4 linked regions of the Homo sapiens genome follow. The protein of the gene in region 1 purifies or fractionates together with the protein of each later gene. This does not show direct contact. Each region holds a gene or a part of one and is shown in the gene's direction. Other genes may lie near its edges. The genes, in order: CCDC89, KIF14, KIF20B and SLMAP.

Region 1 (7,562 bases):
CTATCAGTCACCTCCCACTATCACTCCTCTATCCAGTCAACCACTCTCTTGCCACTAGCCTCAAAATTTTTGCTTTCTTTTTTTTCCATTGAATACCCACTCACCAGCACTATTACAGTTCCCATCCCCACATAAATTCAGTGGAACTACCCTGTCCTTGGTGCAAACTGTGGCTGGAGAAAATCACACATCCACCCTGTCTACAATAGAAATGAGAAATAGATGGAGAAATAAAGAGTCCTTGTGTGTGGCTTTGCATCTGCAGTTTTGGTTCTTGAGGTTCTACCTAGTTCCTGCCTCTCCTGCTTTGACTCTATGAGCTCCCGCTGTGCACTTTCTGTGAGCCAATATATTTCCACTTGCTTAGCTAAATTGAATTGGGTTTCTATTAAAACAATCTTGACTAATATGCCCCTTCCATCCAAGACTGGTTTTGTATCCCTTCTTTGTGCCTTCAGTAACACCCAGTGTTTACCACTGTATCTTTGAAAAGAGTGATGTCTAATTTATCTATGATTACTTTAGCAGTGTTCACACTGAATTATTGTTATCCATTTATCTGTGTCTATCACTAAACTGTAATCATCCTGAGAGTTGGGACTTCATTCTTGGATATAATAGTTTCTCAGTCTATGTGAGATGAATGAATGAATGATCAAATGGACAAATGAAATGTGATCTAAGATCATGGGCTTTGGTATCAAAAAGATCTAGATTTGAATTCTCGCTCTATCACTTATTCTCTGGGTGGCATAATTTGCTTAACCTCTCTCAACCTTGGTGTCTTTGTTACCTGTAATTGATAAAATGTGGATAATAATGCCTACCCTTCAAGAATATCATTAGAATTAAGTGAGAGATGTACAAATAAATGCCCACTACCTAGAAGAGCTCTGTAAATGGTAGCTTTAAAAGGGAGGGAGGCATGGAAAGACTTAAAGATAAGTGGAGACGACTCATTGATCACCACAAGGGAGAGAATTGGTCACCTTGGATCTCTGGGAAGGGAATATATGGGATACTTTTAGGAGGGGAGCTAGAAAAAAAATGATTGAGCAAAGAAGACAACCACGGCAGAAAGGAACCAAAGTGATTACTAAACTAAGTTATTTGAGGACAGTGATCGTATTTATTTTATTAATATATTCTTAGCACCTAGCATTGCAAATAACCTTGCAAATGTTTACTGAATAAATGAATGAATATTGATTAGGATCTTATCAGATTCTTGGTCTTGATAAGTAATCTATAGATGTGTGTTATTTTAAATAATGTAAATATAAATTTAATAGAAATGTGTATTAAAATATATTTGCAAAAAAGAAATATAAGCTTTTTCAAATGTGGAAAATTTAGCTGAACATGGTGGTACATGCCTGTAGTCCTAGCTGCTTGGGAGGCTGAGGCAGGAAGATTGCTTGAGCCCAGGAATTCAAGACTGCAGTGAGCTATGATGACACTACTGCACTCCAGCTTGGGCAACAGAGACCCTGACTGGTAAAAAAACAAATGTGTATGTATCTTTTTTCCGTATTTTTCTGAATTCTTTTCCTCCTTTCAGGAAATATATTTTGTGAATTCACTTTATGATATCAGACAACCATATAATCAACAAATAAAATTTTCAATGTTTGTAAGACCCTTTTATTTAAGAGGACCATTCTAATTTTCTAGTCATTTGCCTTGAAAATAACTAGACGAACTCCATTTACGCATATGAAGCTTGAAATTTAAGGAAAAGGACAAGAGAAATGTGGGAAAATTACAAATAAGTTTAATTCACATTTTTAAAGTCTTTGGAATTCACTTTCACAAAACTTCAATATCCTACTGTTTATGTAGTTGTTAAAATTTCAGCTTAGGAAATTTCCCCAGTCTTCAATCTTGGTTTCCATATATAGACAAGAAATTCAGGATTTGAAACATGAGACCTTGATCTTTGACAGTGAGGGAAGAACCTGAAACTCTTCTTTCAGATTTGTTTCGCTCCCAGTGAAATCTGAAGCATTTAAAAATTCATCTCATATCTATAATGACACCCAGGGTTTTTCCTTATCATCATGACTTGGGAGATAGTAAATCTGATCACCAGAAACTGTGACCACAAGAATAGTCAACTCTTTTCCCTACCCTTAATTTTCACAGGATTGAAATCATCTGAATTTTAAGTTTTGTATTTTGCCTTTTTCAGTTGTATTTCTAACATAAGACTTTTCCATGCTATTAAAAATTACCTATAAATGTAATAAGTTCTAGTGGCTGTACAATATTTTTTGTATGAATATATCATAATTTTTGTAACCATTCCCTTTTTTTTTTGAAAACTTGGGTTTCCAACTTTTAGTTGTTACAAACCACACTACAATGAAAAGTTTTGAGCAAAATGTTTTCTTTCAGATTATTTCCTAAGCAAAGATCTCCGCAGAAGAATTACTAGTTCGGAAGCCATAAAAATATCTTAATTTCTCAGTACCTACTGTCAACTGACTTTCACCAACAGTTTAAGAGAGTGCCTATTTCAATACTCCTTTCTAGTCCTGGCTTGTCTTAAGAGAAAATTTTTTGACTAATTTGATACGTGAAATTATATCTTTTTTTTTTTTTTTTTTTTTTTGAGACGGAGTCTCGCTTTGTTGCCCAGGCTGGAGTGCAGTGGCGCGATCTCGGCTCACTGCAAGCTCCGCCTCCCGGGTTCACGCCATTGTCCTGCCTCAGCCTCCTGAGTAGCTGGGACTACAGGCGCCTGCCACCACGCCTGGCTAATTTTTTGTATTTTTTTGGTAGAGACGGAGTTTCACCGTGTTAGCCAGGATGGTCTCAATGTCCTGACCTCGTGATCCGCCTGCCTCGGCCTCCCAAAGTGCTGGGATTACAGGCGTGAGCCACCACACCCGGCCGAAATTATGTCTAATTTTAACTTGTATTTATTGGATCACTGTAGACGTTCAGTTCTTGGCCATTTTTGTGAATTTAATTGTTTATTTTTTAGATGTTAATGTTTCGTTGATATGTATAAAATATTTATTTAAAAAAGGTAGTGTCTGGGCTGGGTGCGATGGCTCATGCCTGTAATCTCAGCACTTTGGGAGGCTGAGGCGGGTGGATCATTTAAGGTCAGGAGTTCAAGACCAGCTTGACCAACATGGTTAAACTCCGTCTCTACTAAAAATACAAAAATTAGCCAGGTGTGGTTGTATGTAATTGTAATCCCAGCTACTCAGGAGACTGAGGCAGGAGAATTGCTTGAGCCCGGGAGGCGGAGGTTGCAGTGAATCGAGATCGTACCACTGCACTCCAGCCTGGGCGATGGAGGGAGACTCTGTCTCAAAAAAAAAAAAAAAAAAAAAAAAAAAGTAGTGTCTGTCATATTAGGGATATTTTTCTCAATTTGATTTTTACCTTCAACATCCACTTAATACACATTTATCTGAATCTCCCCCATGTGCCAGGCACTAGTCTAATCATCAAGGATGAAATAGACACAGTCCCTGCCCTTAAGGATCTTACAGTCTAACAGAGGGAAGCTGGCAGATAAACAGTGACTGCAATAAAATTTTCACATCCTCCACCAGAAGTACAAATAGCTATAGCGGATGCACTAAAAGATGTGAGTGACCAATTGGACATGTAGGGGCCAGGAATAGGCTTCAGAGACGATTCTTAACTAAGAATAAAAAGCTTTACTAGAGTGACAAGGGACAAAGTAGGAAAGGCATTCCAAGTAGAGGAACACCTAAAGATAGGGCGAGAGAGCTGGTTAGTGGATTTGGGTTTGGCTTCAATATTTGGGTTTGAGGAGTAAAATGTCAAGAAAATCCAGTGGAAGAAGGGGCTGGAGAGACCTCAGAAGTCACATAATTTAAAAAATTATACATAACTTTTTGAGTAAGCTTTCCCTTTCTGATCTTACATAATGTTTAAGATAAAAAAAAAATCCTTCCTAGCCCCAGAGATTTGATGTTTACCTTCATTTTCTTCTAGTTTCTGTTTACATTTAACTAATCTATCAGGAGTTGACTTTGGCATATAATGGCAAGCTTCATTTGAATCTTATTTTTTCTGTTTTAATGTTTATCTGTGTGGTTCACTAAGCTTCTTTCTGTAACCTTATTTTGCTAATGGGTAAAAACAGGGGGTGTTAAATATCTAATAAAGAGTATTTATGCCCAGGTGGGGACAATGCTAAGAACAACAAAAGAAATTTCACTGGTGTTTTCTATTTTAATACTTAAATACCAAAAGGGAGCTGTGCCAAACATCACGGGTGCAGATATGCAGGCTTTTAGGGTCCTGGCTCTCAGAATACCACTACTACTTTGTATTCATAGACTGAAATTTTTTGAGGAGCCAACCATGTTTCCACAAACAGTAATTTATTCAAACGATAACTGAAGAGGGGAGAGGGAGGATAAATATATCATTGCCTGCTTCATTTGTTTACTACTACCAGAAATTAGGTGGAGTCAGGCTTCCTCCCCTGATGCTGGCTGGAGATTGAGTGGGGTTGGCATCTCTGTGCTGTACAGGCCAGACACTGAGACAGTTGACAACTGAGAGCTGTGATTGGTTAGAAAGGCAAAAGTAACCCGACCAGATTGGCTCTGGACTCCCCCAGATTCCCCTGTTGTTACTTCATAGCATTCTGAAGACCTGTCCACCAATTACAGGGCTCCTTACTGGAAAAACCAACTGCTGGGGAGTGCCAAGAGTCCCTAGCAACACCCTGCAGCGTTTGAAATCTGAGGGGAAAAGACTGTAGTCAGCCCTTAGTGGATGAGAGCGCCTATGCTCCAGAAACAGCAGGCTCCCAGGATGGACACCCCGCCCCCTGAAGAACGCTTAGAGAAGCAAAATGAAAAACTGAACAACCAGGAAGAGGAGACGGAGTTTAAGGAACTGGACGGTCTGAGGGAAGCCTTGGCAAACCTCCGGGGACTGTCAGAGGAGGAGAGGAGCGAGAAGGCTATGCTTCGCTCCCGCATTGAAGAGCAGTCCCAGCTCATCTGCATCCTGAAGCGGAGGTCAGATGAGGCCCTGGAGCGCTGCCAGATCCTAGAGCTGCTCAATGCAGAGCTGGAGGAGAAGATGATGCAGGAGGCTGAGAAGCTCAAGGCCCAGGGTGAGTACAGTCGGAAACTAGAGGAACGCTTTATGACCCTAGCAGCCAACCACGAGTTGATGCTCCGCTTCAAGGATGAATACAAGAGTGAGAACATCAAGCTGAGGGAGGAGAATGAGAAGCTGAGGCTGGAGAATAGCAGCCTCTTCAGCCAGGCTCTGAAGGATGAGGAGGCGAAAGTATTACAGCTCACAGTCCGGTGTGAGGCCCTCACTGGGGAGCTAGAAACGCTGAAGGAGAGGTGTGCTCAGGATGCCTGCCAGGCACAGGCGCGCGAGAAGGAGCTGCTGGAGCTACAGAGCCAGCAGGCCTGCACCCACACCAAGGAGACAGAACAGCTGCGCAGCCAGCTGCAGACCCTCAAGCAGCAGCACCAGCAGGCTGTGGAGCAGATAGCTAAGGCAGAGGAGACACACAGCAGCCTGAGCCAGGAGCTGCAGGCCAGGCTGCAGACCGTCACTAGAGAGAAAGAGGAGTTGCTGCAGCTGTCCATTGAAAGGGGCAAAGTGCTTCAGAACAAACAGGCAGAGATCTGCCAGCTTGAGGAAAAGTTGGAGATAGCAAATGAAGACAGGAAGCATGCGCTGGAGCGGTTTGAGCAAGAGGCAGTGGCTGTGGACAGCAACTTGAGAGTCAGGGAGCTTCAGCGCAAAGTAGATGGGATCCAGAAGGCCTACGATGAACTCAGGCTGCAGTCTGAAGCCTTCAAAAAGCACAGCTTGGATCTTTTAAGCAAGGAGAGAGAACTCAATGGCAAACTCCGCCATCTCTCTCCATAGGGAAGTTTCTGCTTCCTCTGGCCTGCAATTCAGAATTCAAATATTTGCGTCTTAGCATTATGGCAAGAGTAAAGATGATATCCCATTTATTATACTTTCAAGCACAAAAGGCAACTCAAAGAAAAGCTACTTTACTATGATATTGTTGTTATTATTGTAAAGCCATTATTAATTTTCATTTCTACACCTAGAATACACAAGATTTGCCAGATTTCCTTCTGTGCCTTAGAAATCTTAAATTTACTAGTAGTATCTTCTCCTACCCATAAGTTATTAATTCTCAACCTCAGATATCTTCATTTATGTTAGGATTTTAAATTAGCAGCTTCTATGATTTAAGTCAATCTAAGTGCAGTGAGATGTGCCATTGTGAAAAATAATTAGCACAATTACCCACTGTAGATAGTTAGGCTTATAGTCTCCCATAGTTGAGATTGTAAGCAAACATGTATCAGCATAATAGCATGAATGCTTTGCAGAAAAAAAAAAGTGTCTGACTTTATTTTATTTTGCGCTAGCTTGGAAAATGATTGAGATCAAGTTCTTTAACAAAGAAGGTCAATTTTATTCTGTATGAGCAATATGATTCAAATAAGTTATACAAAACAACTTTTATTTTTTCTGCAAGCTTAGATAATATTCCATTTTTTGGTTTTCTCTTTAAAAAGAGGATTTAGATGTGCAATAATGCAAATATCAGTAGCTTAATTTAATATTGCACGATATGCTAATAGACAATTAGACAATTTGGGGTAACAAATCATAGCAGACGTGATCTATAGAGTAACTCAGAAATTGTTTTGTTTCTATTAGCATATTTTTTGTAATTAAGATTTTCCTTTTTTAAAAAAATCTAAGCTGAACGTGTGTATGTATGCTTGCAGCATTTTTGTAGTAATACCTACATTTTGTAAGAATAGTTATAAAAACATGATATATATATATGTAAAGTTCTTAAAAAAGTTCTCAAAGGTAGTTATATTTTCTTATCTTCCTGTAATTAGGTATTGATATATAAACATTATTATGAATACCTCTCAAAATAGATTGTAATGTAATATTTTTCTCACCCATTTTGCTGAAGGCTACCAAGTTACATAATGAATTTACTTAAAAAATATGACTTGGTGCCTTTTTAGTAAAACCATTTCCAAGCAAGTGTTACCTTGCCTCAGGTAATTTTTTACACCCATTTTTTCACACTTCTATTAAGATTATGCTATTAAATACAAACTTTTCTCATCAAAATAGAAACCACACTGCTAGCTTCAAAGGACTATTTACTTCCTTCTACAGGTTACCAAGAATCAGAATATAGGAGCTAAGTTAATCATGGATATCCTTTATTGAGCCCATACTATTTATCATTGCGCTGAAGCAATTTGGATGAATTACTTTATTTAATTCTTAGGACTATTCAAGAAGGAAAGCGTGTTCATTTCTATTTTAAGGAAGAGGAGACTGGTTTTGGTAATTTTGCTTAAGGCCAGTTGGTCACTGGGGGAGCTGGATTTTGATGACTACAGCACACTGAAAGATAATTTTTGGCGACCAAGTGCCAGGTGCTGGGGTAGGCACTAAGAAGAAGCATAAAGAAGCATTTTTACTGCCCTGGAAGAGCCCCCATACAGTCTAAGGGCAAAAATAATAATAATAATTATTAT
Region 2 (7,039 bases), on another chromosome or scaffold:
GAATACACTTAACCTCCCCAAATATATCTTTATCTGCAGTTTATAGACTGCATTGCTGTGGTTGAAAAAGAGATACGTACTTTTTGGTTATGATTAATTTTTAAAGAAAATACGTTTGAGTCATAAGAAAGTTGGTAGTTTATAGAAAAAAGTATTTATAGACAGGCATTGTGGCATGTGTCTGTAGTCCCAGCTACTTGGTTCAGGTGGGAGGATTGCTTGAGCCTGGATGGTCGAGGCTACAGTGAGCCATGTTTATGCCACTGCACTCCAGCCTGGGCAACAGAGTGAGACTCTGTCTCAAAAAAAAAGAAAGTAAAAAAGTATTTACTCAGTAATTATATGAGGGGAGAAATATATTTTGTGAAATAAATTTCTTGCTGAGAAGTATTTTAAGTTAAAAATTTTTTTTTTCTTGCATGCAGGAAGGTGTGAGTATTAATAAGTCCTTGCTAACTTTGGGAAAAGTTATATCTGCACTTTCGGAACAAGCAAACCAAAGGAGTGTTTTTATTCCTTATCGTGAATCTGTTCTTACATGGCAAGTATCTTTTGAAGTATAAAGAATTGTATAAAATATAGTGAATACTATGGGGAAAAGAATGATAGACTGACTTCATTAACTTTGGGATGGAGAAAGGTGGTAAGCATTATGAATTCTAGAGCCAAACTACCTGGATTTGAATCTCAGCTCAGCATCTTATAAGCTCTGTGACTTTGGGCAAATTACTTAATATTCTAGCCCGTTTCCTCATCTGTAAAATAGGAATAAAATCAATACCTTTTAGGGGTAAGTGAGAATTAGATTATTAGTGTACAATTCTTAATACATAATATGTACTATATGAGTGTAAATAACTGTTCTTGTACTTAACTATTATTTGTGGCTGATGTTTGAACATATATGGTACTACCAAACATATTGCTAGTTGTATAAAGAGAAGTTGAATAATTTTGTTTGCTTACTACACAGTGACTAATACATGGGTGCTCAATAAATGTTTTCATTAGTGAATGTATATTTAATTTTCAATATGTTACATTCAGATTACATCTGTATGGATTTAATATTCAGTTGTGATAGGCATTAATATACAGTTACAATAAGGACTGCATCTTTACTTGAGGGTAATGTGTCTTTATAATTGGTTTATTACAATGTGATTGCCACCTTGAAACCTATAAGGGAAAATCTGATTTTTTTCATGTCTTATGAAAGTTAAAAATAGTGACATTCATTCTGCACTAATATATGTTTTAAGTCTCATACTCTTTTTCTCTAAAATAAAGATTTTGCTTTTAGTACAATATAGAATTTTTGTTTCAATGTTCATCATTTTCAACATTTATTGAGCACCTGCTTCAAAAGGTTGTGGTAGCACTGGAAATACAAAGATGACCAAGACACATAGTCCCTTCCCTATGGTAGCTCACAGTCATGAAATACTTGATGATCCACCACATTTTAGAATCTCTGCACAGATTATTGCCTCTTGAAACAATATAAAAAGTGTAAGAGAGAAAAAGTGTTTATGAGATCTAGAAATAGTTACAAATACCAGAAAAGTTTTAAATGGTATTTGAGTAGAGTATAATAATACTGTATTATATACCCTATTAGTTTGTTTTGTGCTTTCTAGATAATTACTGTTATTAAGTTGTTGTAGAAGCAAAGTCTTATGACTTTTTTTCTTGTAGGCTGTTAAAAGAAAGTCTGGGTGGAAATTCAAAAACTGCAATGATTGCTACGATTAGTCCCGCTGCCAGCAACATAGAAGAAACATTAAGCACACTTAGATATGCTAACCAAGCCCGTTTAATAGTCAACATTGCTAAAGTAAATGAAGATATGAACGCTAAGTTAATTAGAGGTGAATATTTTCTCAGAATTTAAAAATTGTTTTGCCACAGTTTAGTCCCAGATATTAGTTGCAGTCTTAAAATATGTAATTTATGAACATCAAAGGTGTTTTTCTATACCTATTTTAATAGATTCTAGTCATCAGCCTATAGTGATGGAGGATGATAGGTAGAAGGACAGATAATAAGTAATAAGGAGAAAAACAATTAGGAAAAGAACATAGAAAACAGAGTGTGAGTAAGGGGGAAACAGTAAGCATTAAACAATAAATTTACACAGTCATAGACGTGTGCAGCAAAATGCCAATAAAACTATTTACTATTTTTCTCTTATGACCTCTCTTCCATTGACGTTTTATGTACTAGCTCTGCTCATGCTTAGTTCATTGATCCAAAGGCAATTGGAGCTCGAGTTTCTAGTATAGGCTGAACTTCATTTATGCTAAATACTGCTTTCTATTTATCTCTAGGTAATCATCAATTTAGGATAGACTTTAATGCCTGCAAGAAATCTTGATTTGTACAGTTTTATCTTTGCTGATGTAGAACTATCATCTTTTCATGCCCCTTTGTCCTCTGGCCCTTTTTAGCAGCAGAAGGTGATAGACACTTCAGATGTATGAGCCAGAGAAGAATCTGATTTGTCTATCCTGGTCCATCCTTTCCCTTTTGGATCCCTTCTGTTTCACAAGTGGGACTGTTTTCATTAAAAATAAGTATTCTGGGCCGGGCATGGTGGCTCATGCCTATAATCCCAGCACTTTGAGAGGCTAACGCAGGCGGACTACTTAAGGTCAGGAGTTCGAGACCAGCCTGGCCAACATGGGGAAACCCTGTCTCTACTAAAAATACAAAAATTAGCCAGACACAGTGGTGGGCACCTGTAATCCTGGCTACTCGGGAAGCTGAGGCAGGAGAATTGCTTGAGCCCAGGAGGCGGAGGTTGCAATGAGCCGAGATCGTACCACTGCACTCTAGACAGTGAGACTCTGTCTAAATAAATAAATAAATAAATATTCTGAATTCCAGCTTGAAAAATCTTTGATCTTGGCTGTTCTGCCTAGTGAATAGCCATTCTTTTATTTCTTTACTTTTTAAATAAACTTTCACTTTAACAATTACCCTTTTGCCTCTCAAAAGTGTTCCACTTTGGTCAGTACATTATACAGCTTTCCTACTTATGAACAGGGAAAGTTCATTAATATGGGAGCATATTTCAGGTTAAGACTAAGTAAAGATTTATAGGTTATATAAAGTAGAGCTGATTTCTCCAATATTCTATTTTATTTAGTAATACTGTATTTAAAACTTCAAATGAAATAGAAGATTGGAGGATTATGCTTACTGTGGAAATTGTTATATATTAAATGTTATTATTAATGCATCTTTGTATAAATCTTCAGAATTGAAGGCAGAAATTGCAAAGCTAAAAGCTGCTCAGAGAAACAGTCGGAATATTGACCCTGAACGATACAGGCTCTGTCGGCAAGAAATAACATCCTTAAGAATGAAACTGCATCAACAGGAGAGAGACATGGCAGAAATGCAAAGGTAGAGTACAGTCAGTACTCTAAATGTTAAGTGTGTTGCTCTGGAATCATAGGAATGGCAGGGACCTCAAGAGGATACTGAGTATTTTTCCGACCTTCCTTATGAATAGAGCAGCCCACTCCCAGATTATCATATTTTAAATATTACTAGGTAGTTGCCTAATTTTCATTGATTGTCTCTTGACTCTCAATCTTATACATCTGGATGTTTTTAACTCTGTTATTTTCTTTGTCTTTGGAAAGAGTGTGGAAAGAAAAGTTTGAACAAGCTGAAAAAAGAAAACTTCAAGAAACAAAAGAGTTACAGGTATTATTTCAACTTTCTAAACTGATTAGAAAATAAAAGAAATATGCCAAGAAATAAATATTGCCAATATGCCAATGCATGTAAATTTAATGTTTCAAATACTTACTATATACTGACTCTGTACAAAGCAATACCGTAAGGAAAATTAATATAAAGAAATGTTAAGATCAAGACTGGTTGCTTAGAGCCAGCCCATAAACTAGTTGGAAAGTTAAAGTATGAATAAACCATCTTGTTATATTTACTTTGGTTCTACAAATATATATTAAATGTCTATGCTTTTCAGGAACAGGGGAAGCCAAGGTGATTAAACACAGTTTCATCCCTCAGAGAGCTTGTGATCCAGAGAGAGATTTACAAAACGTAAATAGAAGACTGAAATGCAATGTGATTTCAGTAGATTGAGCCATAAGCAATTGCCATTTTTGTAGGTAAAGCATGGTTGAACACTGGCAGTTTCATATGGTTGAACCTAATGTAATGAAAAGTATTTCAAGTGATTGGTAGTGGGGGAGTACTATAAGAATTCAGGAGAAGAAGGGAAAATTCCTTGCGCATGGCCAATCCAATCTCATAAAAGAGGTGGCATTTGAGATGGGCTTTGAAGTTTGGGTAAGATTTTAATAGGAAGAGAAAAGGAAGAGCACATTCTTGGAAGAGAAAATTCTCTGAAAGTAAAGGTAGAAAAGTTTGAGTTGTCTTTAGAAAGGGTACGTAGATCAGTTTTACTGGAAGCAGTTTATATGAGATCATAAGGAGATACAATTGGAAAGATATGTTATGATTAGTTTATGAAGGACTTGATTTCCAGGCCAAGGAAATTAAGTTTTATCCTGTAGGAAGTGAGAAGCTGTTAAAAAGTGACCAGGGAATTTACATTTTGAGAGCACCCTTTCGAGAGAATTAACCTGGCATAGGATATAAGATGGATTGAAAACAGAAGCTGTTGACGGTGATCAAGAGGCTGCTTCAGTAGTTTTGGTGTGAGTTGACAGGGGCCTGTGGTGAAGGCAATGAAGATGCAACAAAACAAACTGATCTATTCTAAAGACGGTCAGTCAATAAGAAGACACAATTTGGTGATGATAGATTGATGTATGAGTAGACTGAGGATGGTGAAGGACAAAGAAGGTAGGGAGGTCACAAAGGAGAGATTCTAAGGAAGGAGGAGAGAGTCTAAAAAACCTTTATGGCCGGGCACGGTGGCTCACGCCTGTAATTCCAGCACTTTGGGAGGCTGAGGCGGGTGGATCACCTGAGGTCAGGAGTTCGAGACCAGCCTGATCAACATGACGAAACCCTATCTCTACTAAAAATACAAAAATTAGCCGGGCGTGGTGGCATGCGCCTGTAGTCTCAGCTACTTGGGAGGCTGAAGCAGGAGAATCGTTTGAACCCAGGAGGCAGAGGTTGCAGTGAGCCGAGATCGTGCCACTGCACTCCAGCCTGGGTGACACAGCGAGACTCTGTCTCAAAAAAATAAAAATAAAAAAATAAATAAATAACCTTTAATTTAGTGAGACTTCATATAGAATTGTTTTAATGTTTAATATAGACCATTTGTTTTAGGTGAATTTAACAATTTCATACTGTGATTAAGATTAATTTCTTTTTCTGACTTCTACCAGAAAGCAGGAATTATGTTTCAAATGGACAATCATTTACCAAACCTTGTTAATCTGAATGAAGATCCACAACTATCTGAGATGCTGCTATATATGATAAAAGAAGGAACAACTACAGTTGGAAAGTATAAACCAAACTCAAGCCATGATATTCAGTTATCTGGGGTGCTGATTGCTGATGATCATTGGTATGTTAATCCTCTAAAAAAAAAGAAAAGGCACCTGTTCTATATCTTGATAACATGTGGTTTCCTTCATATGGCATATTCGTTGATACTGATCGTTTGGTAGAATTCTTCAAACCCATTGTTTAGTCAGGAAAAACATACATTCTGAGTGTGTTATAAGGATGATAGGTCAGTTACTCTCAATATAAAGTACAGTGTAATGCTCTCTCTGTTTTTGTTTTGGCATACTTGATCTGTTGATTGAAGAATAATTTATTTTCTTGCAATTATAATGATGCACATGCAAGTAAACTATCTATCTTACATAACAGAATTTTTGGTTGGATTGACCAATTTAAAAATGTTACTTTATGTGAATTTTGTTCATATGAATGGAATACTTGTATATATTGTTGGAATGATAGCGTATGTAAACTTTTTTGACTCTGCATTGTGTTTCCAAGATTTGTGTACATTGGTTCCTGTTTTATTTTCACTGCTATGAAGTATTCCATTGTATGAGTTTATCTCTTATAAAGTTTAGGAAGTGCTTTTAAATTGTATGTCTGAGAGTAGAGATACTAGGTTGTAGAATATGTGCATATTCAACTTTAGTAGCTAATTTCAAATTATTTTCCAAAATGAATTTTTACTCCCATTGGCCTTGAGAATACCTGTTACTCCACATCGTTGCCAATACTTAGTACTGTCAGACTTTATGCCAATCTGATGAACACTAAATAGTATATCATTATGGATTCATTTTACATTTCTTTGATTAATAATAAGGTTGAACATCTTTTCATGTGTTGATTGGCCATTTTTGTTTACTATTGTAACTTGCCTCTTCATATCTTTTGTTGATTTTTCAACTGATTTGCTTATTTCTTAATAATTTGTAGGAGTTGCCAATCTTTCGTGAGCTTTTTGGTATAAATATCTTTTTTTCTAACGTGTAACATCTTTTTACTCTCTCTGGTGCCTTTGATTGATTGAAGTTCTTAATTTTATTGTAGTACCTGGCATCAGTCTTTTCCTTTATGATTGTCAGTTTTTATGTCTTAAAGAAAGAATGTTCTGGCTGGGCGTGGTGGCTTATGCCTGTAATCCTAGCACAGGTGTGTGGGCTCAGGAGTTTGAGTCCAGCCTGGGCAACATGGTGAAACCCTGTCTCTACTAAAAATACAAAAAATTTTCTGGGCGTGGTGGTACCTGCCTGTAATCCCAGCTACTCAGGAGGCTGAGGCATGAGAATCGCTTGAACCTAGGAGGTGGATGTTGCAGTGTGCCGAGATCATCATGCCACTGTACTTCAGCCTGAGTGACAGAGCGAGACTATGTCTCAAAAAAAAAAAAAAAAAAAAAAAAAGAGAGAGAGAGAGATAGAGTGTTCTGGCCAGGTGCGGTGGCTCACGCCTATAATCCTAACAGTTTGGGAGGCTGAGGCGGCAGATTACTTGAGACCAGGAGTTCAACATCAGCCTGGCCAACATGGTGAAACCTCATCTCTACTGAAAATACAAAAATTAG
Region 3 (7,003 bases), on another chromosome or scaffold:
TTTTTGGCAATTACTATACCAAATACTATAAATACTATATCTTTAAATGATATGCTCCTCCTAATATTATTTCTTCATGTATCAATTATAGATATCTATTTACTTCCTACAAAGACAGACAATCACTTAGCTCTAGTTACATATATTTTTTCCTGTACTGGTTACCTTTGCACACTGAAATAATATGCTTAAACTTCTACATCCTGTTGTCTCATTTCTTGATTTGCACTTTGTTAAGATTTTGGTATTATAGACATAAGACTCAATCCTTTTCTTTCTTCTCTTCCTACACTCTTCCTTCCATACCTCTGCTGAGCAAAACCTAGGCCTTACAGAATATAATTCTAGCTCTTCTTTAGCATGTCATATAGGGCCCTTTATGATCTAGCCTCTGCCTACTTTTCTTATCTCCTGCCATTATCCACTTCAGCTAATGTTCACAGTCATGCTGAAGTAGGTATTTAGTTTTTGGAATCTTTTGTGAACTCTTGTTCTTTTTATCATTGTCTCACAGCCTTCCATGGCCTGGAATAGCCTCCTCCTGTAATTCACTGGCAAATCCCAATCATTTTCTTCAGCCTACATGCTACATTACGAAATCTTCCCTAGTAGACATCCCTTATTACATCAAAAAGTATTTATTGAGTACTTGTTTTTGTGCAAGGTACGGTTTTAGATGTTGGGGCTATAGAGGACCAAGATAGTAACGAGTTTGCATTCTAATGACTTAACAAACAGATTTAATAAATATTCCTACCACTATGAAACCTACTATGTACCAGGATTATACTAAATAACTTACATATGCTATTTTAATCCTTACAACAATTTTATGAGCCCTATAAGTGGCTGGGCTTATACTCAATCTCAAGTCTGACTTCACAGCCATTACTTTTAAGCTATGCTCACTCTGCTCCCATTATTCCTTGTTCATTTCTATTACAACATTTGTCATGTTTTGAAATACTTTGCATATGGATTTCCCCATATGAACCACAGGAGATAAAAAAATTATTTTCAGGACGGTGTAGAACCAGTGCCATTCTAGATGTATATGAAAGAAGTTAATACATTATATACAATGGGTGCCTAAAGGCATTAGGGATTAATTGTCTCTTGAAATCCCAGGTTGAGAAGGGCTACTTTAGATGAAGGCCTCTTAAGAGCCTCTCAAGGGTAGAGACATCTGTCACTTAGTGGGTGGCTGATAAATTTTTGTTGAACTTGTTATTTAAACCTTTGCAATTAATACATACTCAAAAGTATTATTTTGGGGTTGAAAAGTCAGCTGCTTCAGTCTTGCTTCTAGAGATGGCTTTGCAGGTGGAGTTAAGCACTTAGTATTTTCTTAAGAGAATTCCAGGGGTGTTGGATCCAAACTTTGAGAGGCCAAAGAATGCACAGACTCTGAAGCCGGATCACCCAGATTCAAATTCCAGTCTCTCTGTTTGTTATATAAATTGAAGCAAGTTATTATTTAACATATGCCAGATACTTTTATAAATACTTTACACTACTACCTGATTTAATCTTCAACACTTCTATTTAGTAGATACCTTTACTATTTCCTTACTAGCTCCATGCCTCAGTTTCCTCTTCTATTAATTGGCTGTAACAACAACAAATTGCCTTACAGAGTTACTGTTAGGATTAAATGAGTATAAAGTGCTAAGAATACTACCTGGCATAAAGAAAGTTAGCTATTACTAACAGTAGAGACTGTGGCCAGGGCAGAAAAATCAGCTTGATGTAACTTACCAAATTTTTCATTTTATGTTAATATTCATTTCAAGGGCACAGATGGAATTCTTTGGAATGGGTACTAAATCTTAAGCACTTCCCAATCAAGCTGGCTCTGCATCTCCCTAAGGGAAAAACCCAGCAGCTGGTGCTGAAATGAAAAACGTCGGAAAAAGTACCTTTAAAATCTGGATACTTTTCTGCAACTCCTCTGCCATCTTCCAAGTCCACATTATCATTATCTTTTCCTGGGATCTCTTGCAACAGCCTCCTAACTGGTTCAACAGCATCCTCCCTGGCTGCCTCTAGTTTCTCCAGGAGATTAACCTTTTCAAAAGATAGATGCACATTGGATTGCACCATGCCCATGCTTAAAACTGGTTATCCAGTAAGCATTTCGTAATACTCAAGTCAGTAACTTGGCTAAGGCTTACAGGGTCTGGCCTTGGCCCATGCCTACAGATTCACTCCCCTGACTCCTCCCCATGGTCTCTACCCAGCCACATCAGCTTTCATTCATTGTTCAACAAATATTGATTTGCTTGTCTTGTGTTAGAGAGTCATTGAGGATACATTAGCGACCAAACAAAACACAGTTATTCTACTCACAGAACTTAGATTTTACAGGGTGGGGGAACAACAACAATTGCTAGTTGTAAAAAGTATAAAAATGAAATTGAACCTGCAAATAAAAAAAGAGTGCTCACTTGAGATACAGTAGCCAGGAAAGTCTTCTTTAAGAAGGTACTATTTTAGACGTAACCTAAATGATGAAGGGAAGTGCCACGTGTTGAATGGAGAAGAGAGAATTTAGGTACAGGGAACAACCCATGCAAAGGTTCATACATGCTGGAAAGAAGTTGGTGTTTGAGGTATCCAGAGCAGATCAACTTACTGTACAGTTAGTGGGGAGTGAGGTCGGCTGACACTTGATTGTGCAGGACCTGGGAGGCCATGGTAAAGATCAGAATTCTATTCCTTTTCCCCCCTCCTCTTTTTATTTTATAAAATCTGTTATTTTAGAAAGTTGCAAGACTGGTACGATGTACACCATTATACCCTTCAACTAGATTCACCAATTACTAATATTTTGCCACATTTGCTTTCTCTATTTTTTTGCCATATCTTTTGAAGGTAAGCCGCAAACACTGTGACACTTTGCTGCTAATTACTTTAGCAAGCGCCTTCCAAAAACAAAGGCATTCTTCCACTTAATCACAAATTAATTCTCACATGCAATCAATTTAAAACTGATTCAATATCATCTAATATGTAGTTCATATTTAAATTTCCCCAGTTGTCCACAAATGTCTTTCGAAGTTTTTTTTTTTTTTTAAAAACTATGAACCAGCCAAGATTCACAAATTTCATTTGGTTTCTTTTGACTCTCGACTAAAGTAATTTTCCACTTCGTTTTTTTCTTTTTCCTGTCATGACACTGACATTTTTGAAGAGCCTAGGCCTGTTGTCTTGTAGAATATTCTACATTGTTTTTTTCTGATTGTTTCCTCATGATTAATGTCAAACATTTCTAGCACAAATACTATCGGGTGATATTAGCGATGCTAAGTATCTTCACTTGGTTAAGGTATGTCTAATAAATCTCTTCAGTGTAAAATTCTATTTTCCCTTTATAATAAGAAATGATCTGTAGGGTGATTCTTTGAGATACTAACATCCTCTTCCCTACAACCTTTCAGTTAATTGTTTGTTTTAGCATCTTGCATTCATTAGTTTTAGCATTCATAAGCTTACCTATATCAATTTTTAGACTGGCAGTTGCACAATGGGGATGCAGCGAGGGAAGTGACCCTCCGGATCCCGGGATGCCGAGCCTTTTTCTGCCCCGTAGGGACAGGACTGGGAAGTGGCTAGCCCGCCATTCCTCGGCCCGTCCTTAGGGGAGTCGCAGGACTAAGTGCAGTGGCAGTGGCCTCACCTCGGGCCTTCGCCACATCTTTATTGCCTCAAGGACAGAATTGGAGATCGGTGTCCCAGTCAACAGCGTGGTACTTATGACAGCCGCGAGAAAGCGCACTACTAAAGCCCGGCTAGCAGAGCTGGGAGGCAAACCAGACCGTCAGCACCAGGGCGGCCCACGCCTGCTTCCGCCCATTGGCTGCCCGCGTTTCAAGACCCGCCCCCATATTGGAGAGCTTCTTCCGGTAGCCACTGGAAAGCCCGCAGCGCGAGCCGGCTACGCTCCCTGGCGGAGCTCTGGACGCCCCACCTACTCCCAGCGTTCAGTGCGGTGCCCTGGCCGCCATTGTTTGAATTTGAAAACGGTAACATCGCAGTGCTGCTCGCGGGTCTGGCTAGTCAGGCGAAGTTTGCAGGTGAGGAGGTGACCCGCGGGAATGTGTGGGGAAGGAGGTGGGTGACTGCGCATGTATGGGGCCTAAGGTGGGGAAACGGCTTTGGCAATGTGGACATGTTCCGACAGGGCTCATACCCCAGTGGAGGTTACTGTCAGGAACTGGGTTGCGGAGCGATGCGAACACGGGGTACGCAGCGAGGAATGAGTCATACTAATTCGGTTACGGTTTAAATCTCGCCTCCACTGCTAATTAGCTGAGTGACGCAAGACAATTCATTTAATCTCTCTCTGTACCTTAGTTTTCTTATCAGTTAAAAGGCTGCAATGAAGTGTCTATTTCTTTCGGCTTTTGTGAAGATTAAATGGTAATGTGTAAAGTTATTAGTGCTGGCACACAGTAGGTACTAAATGTTTGCAGTTATTAATATTATTATTGTTGTTGCTTCTGTTGTTGTTGAGGAACAGGCCTGTTTTGCCACACCTAGTTTTCTGAAGCTCTGAGGTGAGCAGTTTGCTCGGCTGGTAGGTAACACGGCCTTTTTGCGGGGGGAGCCCTGTGGTAGCCTCTGTGCACTTATTTCCAGACTACTCCTACTGGTCCTTGGGGCTTGCCCTTCTAGGGTTTTGCAGTGCCAGGCTGAAGAGTTTGTGGCACAGTGACTGCTGTCATTCCCCAGTTTAGAAGGCTTTCTCCATCTCGATTCGCTCGCTGGTTCAGTGATGCATGTCTGGCACAGTTCTCTTATATTTCTTGCTAAACTACTAGTTTACAGAAGTTCACGCCTTATGGGTTAGGTAGTGTAACAGTGTATTTATCTTACATGTCCAAGACTCCAGATTTTAAATTGTAAAAATAACATAAAATACTCATCGATTAGTTGTGAAGACTTTTTTTGAGGCTTTGTGTTGTAGACCACATTCAGAAACCTCATTCAGCAACAGATTCTGCTATTTTTCACCAAAGTCTCCAATTGTGGATTCTTATTGGAGAGAGGGTAAATATGCAGTTTTCCAGTCAGAGCAGCCTTTTGAAATGAAAAATGAGGTCTTGGAGCCTGCTGTCACGAAAGATAATATTACAGACTAGGACCGACTTTTTTTTTTTTTTTTGGAATAGTATTTTCTTTATAACCATTATTTTAAGTCATTAGGTAGTCTTTATCCCTGCATAAGTCGCTGAATTTGTTATAGGGGATACAGAGTGGTATAAGGCAAGGTTCTTGCCATCAAGAAGTTTCCAGTTTAGTTGGGAAGGCCACGTATAAGTAGAAGTCATCTAAAATCGCAAGAAGTTACAGTAAGTCTGAACACTTTTAGAAATGCTAGGAAGTAGTTTGTTCATTGAAAAATGAGCATATGAACAAATACTTTATTATAACTGCTTTTAGTACATAGGAATATTCTTTTTAATTCAGCAATTTAAAAGATTTATCAACACTTTTCTTTAAACCAAAAATTATTATTTGAAGCCACAGGTGTTTTTTAGTTTTCTGGGCATTTCCATGAACTCTGTGTTATGAAATGTCAGGCCGGTACTTTAACGTTTTGCAGATGCTCCCCCCTCTGCACCCCCTTACCCATGATCTAGATCAGTGCTTTCCTTAGTCTTTTTGCAATTTAGGGGAAAAAAGTCAACTATGTTCTTGTGATACGTTTAGGAATTTCAGCCTGATCAAGGAAAAAGATTGACAACAAGATGGCAGGAATAAACAAGGATTTTGACAGGATTGTAGGCAAAGGAAATCCGTCTCAGTTTGGGACCTTTTCTAGACCAGGGTGAGGGGCCACCATCTAGAGGGGAAAGAGGGCAAGGGGAATGGGGAGTCGGGGAGGAAAGAATCATAGAGGGGCTTACATGCCTAAATGATGTTGCACAGTGGAGAGTCTCCGGATCATAGAAACTCTCAAGGGCAGCAGTGGCTTGGGGGTCTTGATAATCCCGGGTTTTATGTGTCTGGCAAATGTTGGGTGCAGTTTCATGGGGCATTCAAACCTGGCAGGCTCTAAATGGCTAAAAATATGCTTATTTTGGGCCATTTTGAAAGTAAATGGATGCTTCAGAATTTGACTTTGGCGCCCCAGCAGGCTTTTCCCTTTTTTTTTTTTTTTTTTGACGCAGTCTTGCTCTGTGTTCAGGCTGGAGCGCAGTGGCGCAGTCTCGGCTCACTGCAGCCTCTGCCTCCTGGGTTCAAGCGATTCTCCTACCTCAGCCTCCTTAGTAGCTGGGACTACAGGCGCATGCCACCACACCCGGCTAATTTTTGTATTTTTAGTAGAGTCGGGGTTTCACCATGTTGGCCAGGAGGGTCTCGATCTCCTGACCTCGTGATCCACCCACCTCGGCCTCCCAAAGTGCTGGGATTACAGGTGTGAGCCACTGCGCCCGGCCGTAGGCTTTTTAATTTTTATTTTAAACATTCATGGTCCTTGATCCAGTGGGCTTTTGAGCTAAGATCCCTACCAGCTGTGAAGAAGTTTACACTGTAGAGCTATTATGCAAGGGCCATCTTTGGTTCATTTTATATAATACCTGTGGGTGATGGTCGTTACTACTTTCTTGAGCTAGGAACCTTAGTTTGGGAGTCACTGATCTGTATATTTTTTAATCTTGTCAAAAAACAGCACAGAGTCCTCCTCCTCTCTCTGGTATTGTACATCTAGTAGATTCTCAGTAAATATTAGAATGTTAGTATTTTTTAGTTAAGGTTATCCTTAAGTTTACCTTTTAGTTTAGTGATTTGATGTTTAATTCAATGGTAATAGTTTACTGATGCATTATTCCTATTTAACTTAAAACCTGTGATGTGTCAGGTACTGTTTTGAATGTGTTTACATATATTATTTTACTTTTTACTTGAATTTGAAATTGAAAACAATTTTTCAGATAACTGAGTTTTGTTTTGTTTTTTTTTTTTGACGGAATCTCACTCTGTCACCCAGGCTTGA
Region 4 (3,234 bases), on another chromosome or scaffold:
TTTCTTTCCACACAGAAACCCTGGCCCTGGATGCCCATGTTGGCTGCCCTGGTTGCAGTAACAGCCATCGTGCTGTACGTGCCAGGTCTGGCCAGAGCTTCTCCATGAGAGCGTTCCTTGAGTCCGTACACCGTCCTCCCTCTAGAAGCTGGCATCACACTCATGCTGGGGACAAACAGAACCATTTTCTTCCTCTTTACCTCTTAAAACAGCAGAAGTACAAGAATACAGCTGTAGGGTCATTGCTTTAAATTATATAAAATGTATCTGTCTATAAAGAAGATATAAAATTGTGACTTTATTCTACTGTAAGCAATAATTTGCTTGCAATTTTTCATGTAATTTTTAAATTAGTATGTTAAGATTCTGAATATTATGGTGGCCTAAAGTAGGCTTCTTGGTACACCAGATTATTTATAACATTAAATTTATGAGTATTTTACTCTGAATTCTGATCACCAGATAATTCATTTTTCTGATTTGATAACTACCCAAACCAAACAACCAATACATACATGGGAAGAGAGGCCCTGTGTGCTCAGTGCCTATCAGTTTGAAATATATACACATATATATATTTTTTACATATTTACGCCATTTTTACTTGTTATGAAACCACTGAGCTATTGGGAACAAGACTTAGAGACAACTATTTGCGTGGATTTTTTTTTTTTTAAGGAAAAATACGTTTGGAAAATAAACTGTTATGGTGATAATTTGGGGAATATGTGCACGCTTGTTCAGCCTTAATGTGACTTGAAGATGTGGAGGACATCAACTTTGAAAAACTTTCCATGAGAGTGTATTTTCTTGAGCAAACTGAAGTATTTCTGGGAGCAAAAACATAGTAATTACACAATTTCAGTGCAGTCAACCAAAATGTTGAGTCAATTGGAATGTAATTTATTAAACCATGTATTTAAAGAGATATTTTTCTTTAAAAGCCAAGTTACTTTCTCATATACAGCATTTTAGGAAGCATGATTTTTTTTTTCTATCATCTATTCCTCCAAGCATGTTTAATTGAAGAAAGTATTAATATCTCTTTAGATAAGCTTGTATTGACCTAATTTGGTTTATGATGTGTCAGAGCTAATTCATGTTCAGGGTGAGCGTTGTACCTACCAACAAATTTCCTGGTTGGGTATGCAAATGGTTATTTTCTTTTTATTGTTGTTAATTGGGACTTTCTGTTAATGAAAAGCACTATTCCCAAGATTAATAGTGTTCTATGCACAATGAAGCACCTAAAAACACTGCTTGATATTATAAATTTAAAACACAAGTGAAAGTTTAGCCATGGTTTTGTGCGGCATCATAGTTATGTCAATAAAGTTTATTTAGGTCATAGAATATCCTAAAGTATCACATAGTTAAATTTTTCAGTCAGTGAAGACCGGGAGGGAATGTCAGTGAATTGGCTTGAATGTTCTGTGGCAATCCACAGGTCTAGCCAAATATTGAAATAGGAGTTTAGGGTATAATTTGCCTTGTGATGTTTGGCAGTCACTGTTTATACTTTAAAGGTTATATTTTAAGCTATTTGAGATTGCTTTTGGGAAGATCACTAGATTTATGGAGGAATTAGTCACAAATGACTTGTAGAAAATACTGTCATATAGTTCATTTCATCATTTTCTGTTGCAGGAAGCCACTCCACCACAGAATGCTAATATGCCAGTGGTACCCAGTACCTCTTGTATATAGGTTATTGCAAATATTGTTCTGAAATGCTTAACTTCAGAATTACATTTTTTAAAGTAAATAATTGTTTTAAATCTATTTTGTAAAGATATAAAGTACAATAGAATTTCTGGAGTACAGATTAAACTATTTGCACTAACACACGTGACGTGCATGATTTAATAAAATAACTTTACTCTCCCTACGCATGTTTGAGTTGAATATCATTGAAGTTCTTAATGCTGACTCTACTATTGGGTTGTTAATAGTCTTCTCTTGACATGACTCTTTATGCAACATAACATACATTTGGTATTCTTCAGGGTTTAAAAGAAAACACTGAGCTGTTTCCTCCAAGTTTTATTAACCTTTTATTTAACTTACTGCTTTATTTTTTTCTCTTTTAATATGGTTATTGTTAAAATGAGAGTCACTTGCTAGACTGGTCTCTTTAAATGTAAGGTCTAGTATCAATATTTACTTCATTCAAGTGGAATAAATGGCTTTTTGTAGTTACTTCCAGTTTTCCTCAAGAATAGAAATAAGTCTGTTCATAAGCAATACCTTCAGTTTTGTTCAGTTCACTTCCACGTTAAATAAAGAATAGGATTATTCACTGGTAATAATAGAGTCATTAAGAAATATTAAGCATTGCAGCTAAAAATTGAACAACCCTGTAATGATACATTTAAGAATTATTCAAAGGTGCTACATGGCAGGGTTAGAGAATAAAAAGAACGTGGTGTTTGAAGCAAAACAGATCTGTATTGGCATCTTGGTTCTACCTTTTATCAGATGTTGTTGCCTTGTGCAAATCACATTTTCTCTGAGTCTCCATTTTCTCATTTATAACATGCGGAGAATAATACTTATATTTGTGGTAGTAGTGTGAACATTAAAAAGATAATGTATGTGAAGTACCATTCGAGTGGTGAATACGTTTTTATGAGAATGTCATACTGAAAAAATATTGCAAATATTAAAGTTTTAGGTAAGCCTAAACTTTAATCTACTTTAATTAAATGAATTGATTGACTCAACCATTCAGAATTTCTGTGTATGAGTGAGATATGTGTGTAACATTATGAATCCTGAGAAAGCATTATCACCTAGCTCTGTTTGTCGCCTTCATAGTTCACTCTTTTGGAAGTAATATGCTTGGTTTGGTGATGAACCAATTGCCCACAATGGTTTTGGAATTCCTGTTGTTATTGCCTTTAGAGCCACTTTGAGTCACATGTGAAAACCATTCACGTTGCCCTATAGTCAGAGGCTTTCAACCAAAACTAGTATTGCCTACTTGATCTCTCACTTTAATCACTACACTTGACCAAAATCTGGTGACTCTTGGCTGCTTCCAGTGACTATCTACTATCAAAAGGATGGGAATCTGCTACCAAAGAGAAAAAACTGCATGCAAATCAACTGAGTTAAAACTGCAGTCTTGGCTGGGTGCAATGGCTCACACCTGTAATCTCAGCACTTTGGGAGGCCGAGGCAGGTGGATCACCTGAGGTCAGGAGTTGGAGACCAGCCTGGCCAACATGGTGA

Evidence for each region.
Region 2: the proteins of CCDC89 (region 1) and KIF14 purify together in Homo sapiens (co-immunoprecipitation; 3 studies listed by BioGRID and IntAct, with this or other methods). This does not show direct contact.
Region 3: the proteins of CCDC89 (region 1) and KIF20B purify together in Homo sapiens (co-immunoprecipitation; 3 studies listed by BioGRID and IntAct, with this or other methods). This does not show direct contact.
Region 4: the proteins of CCDC89 (region 1) and SLMAP purify together in Homo sapiens (affinity purification with mass spectrometry; 2 studies listed by BioGRID and IntAct, with this or other methods). This does not show direct contact.

Annotation. Positions count from the first base shown.
Region 1 is NC_000011.10:85,683,342-85,690,903, reverse strand, and holds CCDC89 (coiled-coil domain-containing protein 89), read left to right. Parts: upstream 1-4,708; 5' UTR 4,709-4,773; coding exon 4,774-5,898; 3' UTR 5,899-7,056; downstream 7,057-7,562.
Region 2 is NC_000001.11:200,596,728-200,603,766, reverse strand, and holds part of KIF14 (kinesin-like protein KIF14), read left to right. Parts: intron 1-425; coding exon 426-541; intron 542-1,698; coding exon 1,699-1,871; intron 1,872-3,263; coding exon 3,264-3,411; intron 3,412-3,653; coding exon 3,654-3,717; intron 3,718-5,345; coding exon 5,346-5,530; intron 5,531-7,039. UniProt on the Homo sapiens protein: Microtubule motor protein that binds to microtubules with high affinity through each tubulin heterodimer and has an ATPase activity. Plays a role in many processes like cell division, cytokinesis and also in cell proliferation and apoptosis.
Region 3 is NC_000010.11:89,697,605-89,704,607, forward strand, and holds the start of KIF20B (kinesin-like protein KIF20B), read left to right. Parts: upstream 1-3,985; 5' UTR 3,986-4,076; intron 4,077-7,003. UniProt on the Homo sapiens protein: Plus-end-directed motor enzyme that is required for completion of cytokinesis. Required for proper midbody organization and abscission in polarized cortical stem cells.
Region 4 is NC_000003.12:57,927,281-57,930,514, forward strand, and holds the end of SLMAP (sarcolemmal membrane-associated protein), read left to right. Parts: intron 1-15; coding exon of another isoform or gene 16-108; 3' UTR 109-2,723; downstream 2,724-3,234. UniProt on the Homo sapiens protein: Associates with the striatin-interacting phosphatase and kinase (STRIPAK) core complex, forming the extended (SIKE1:SLMAP)STRIPAK complex.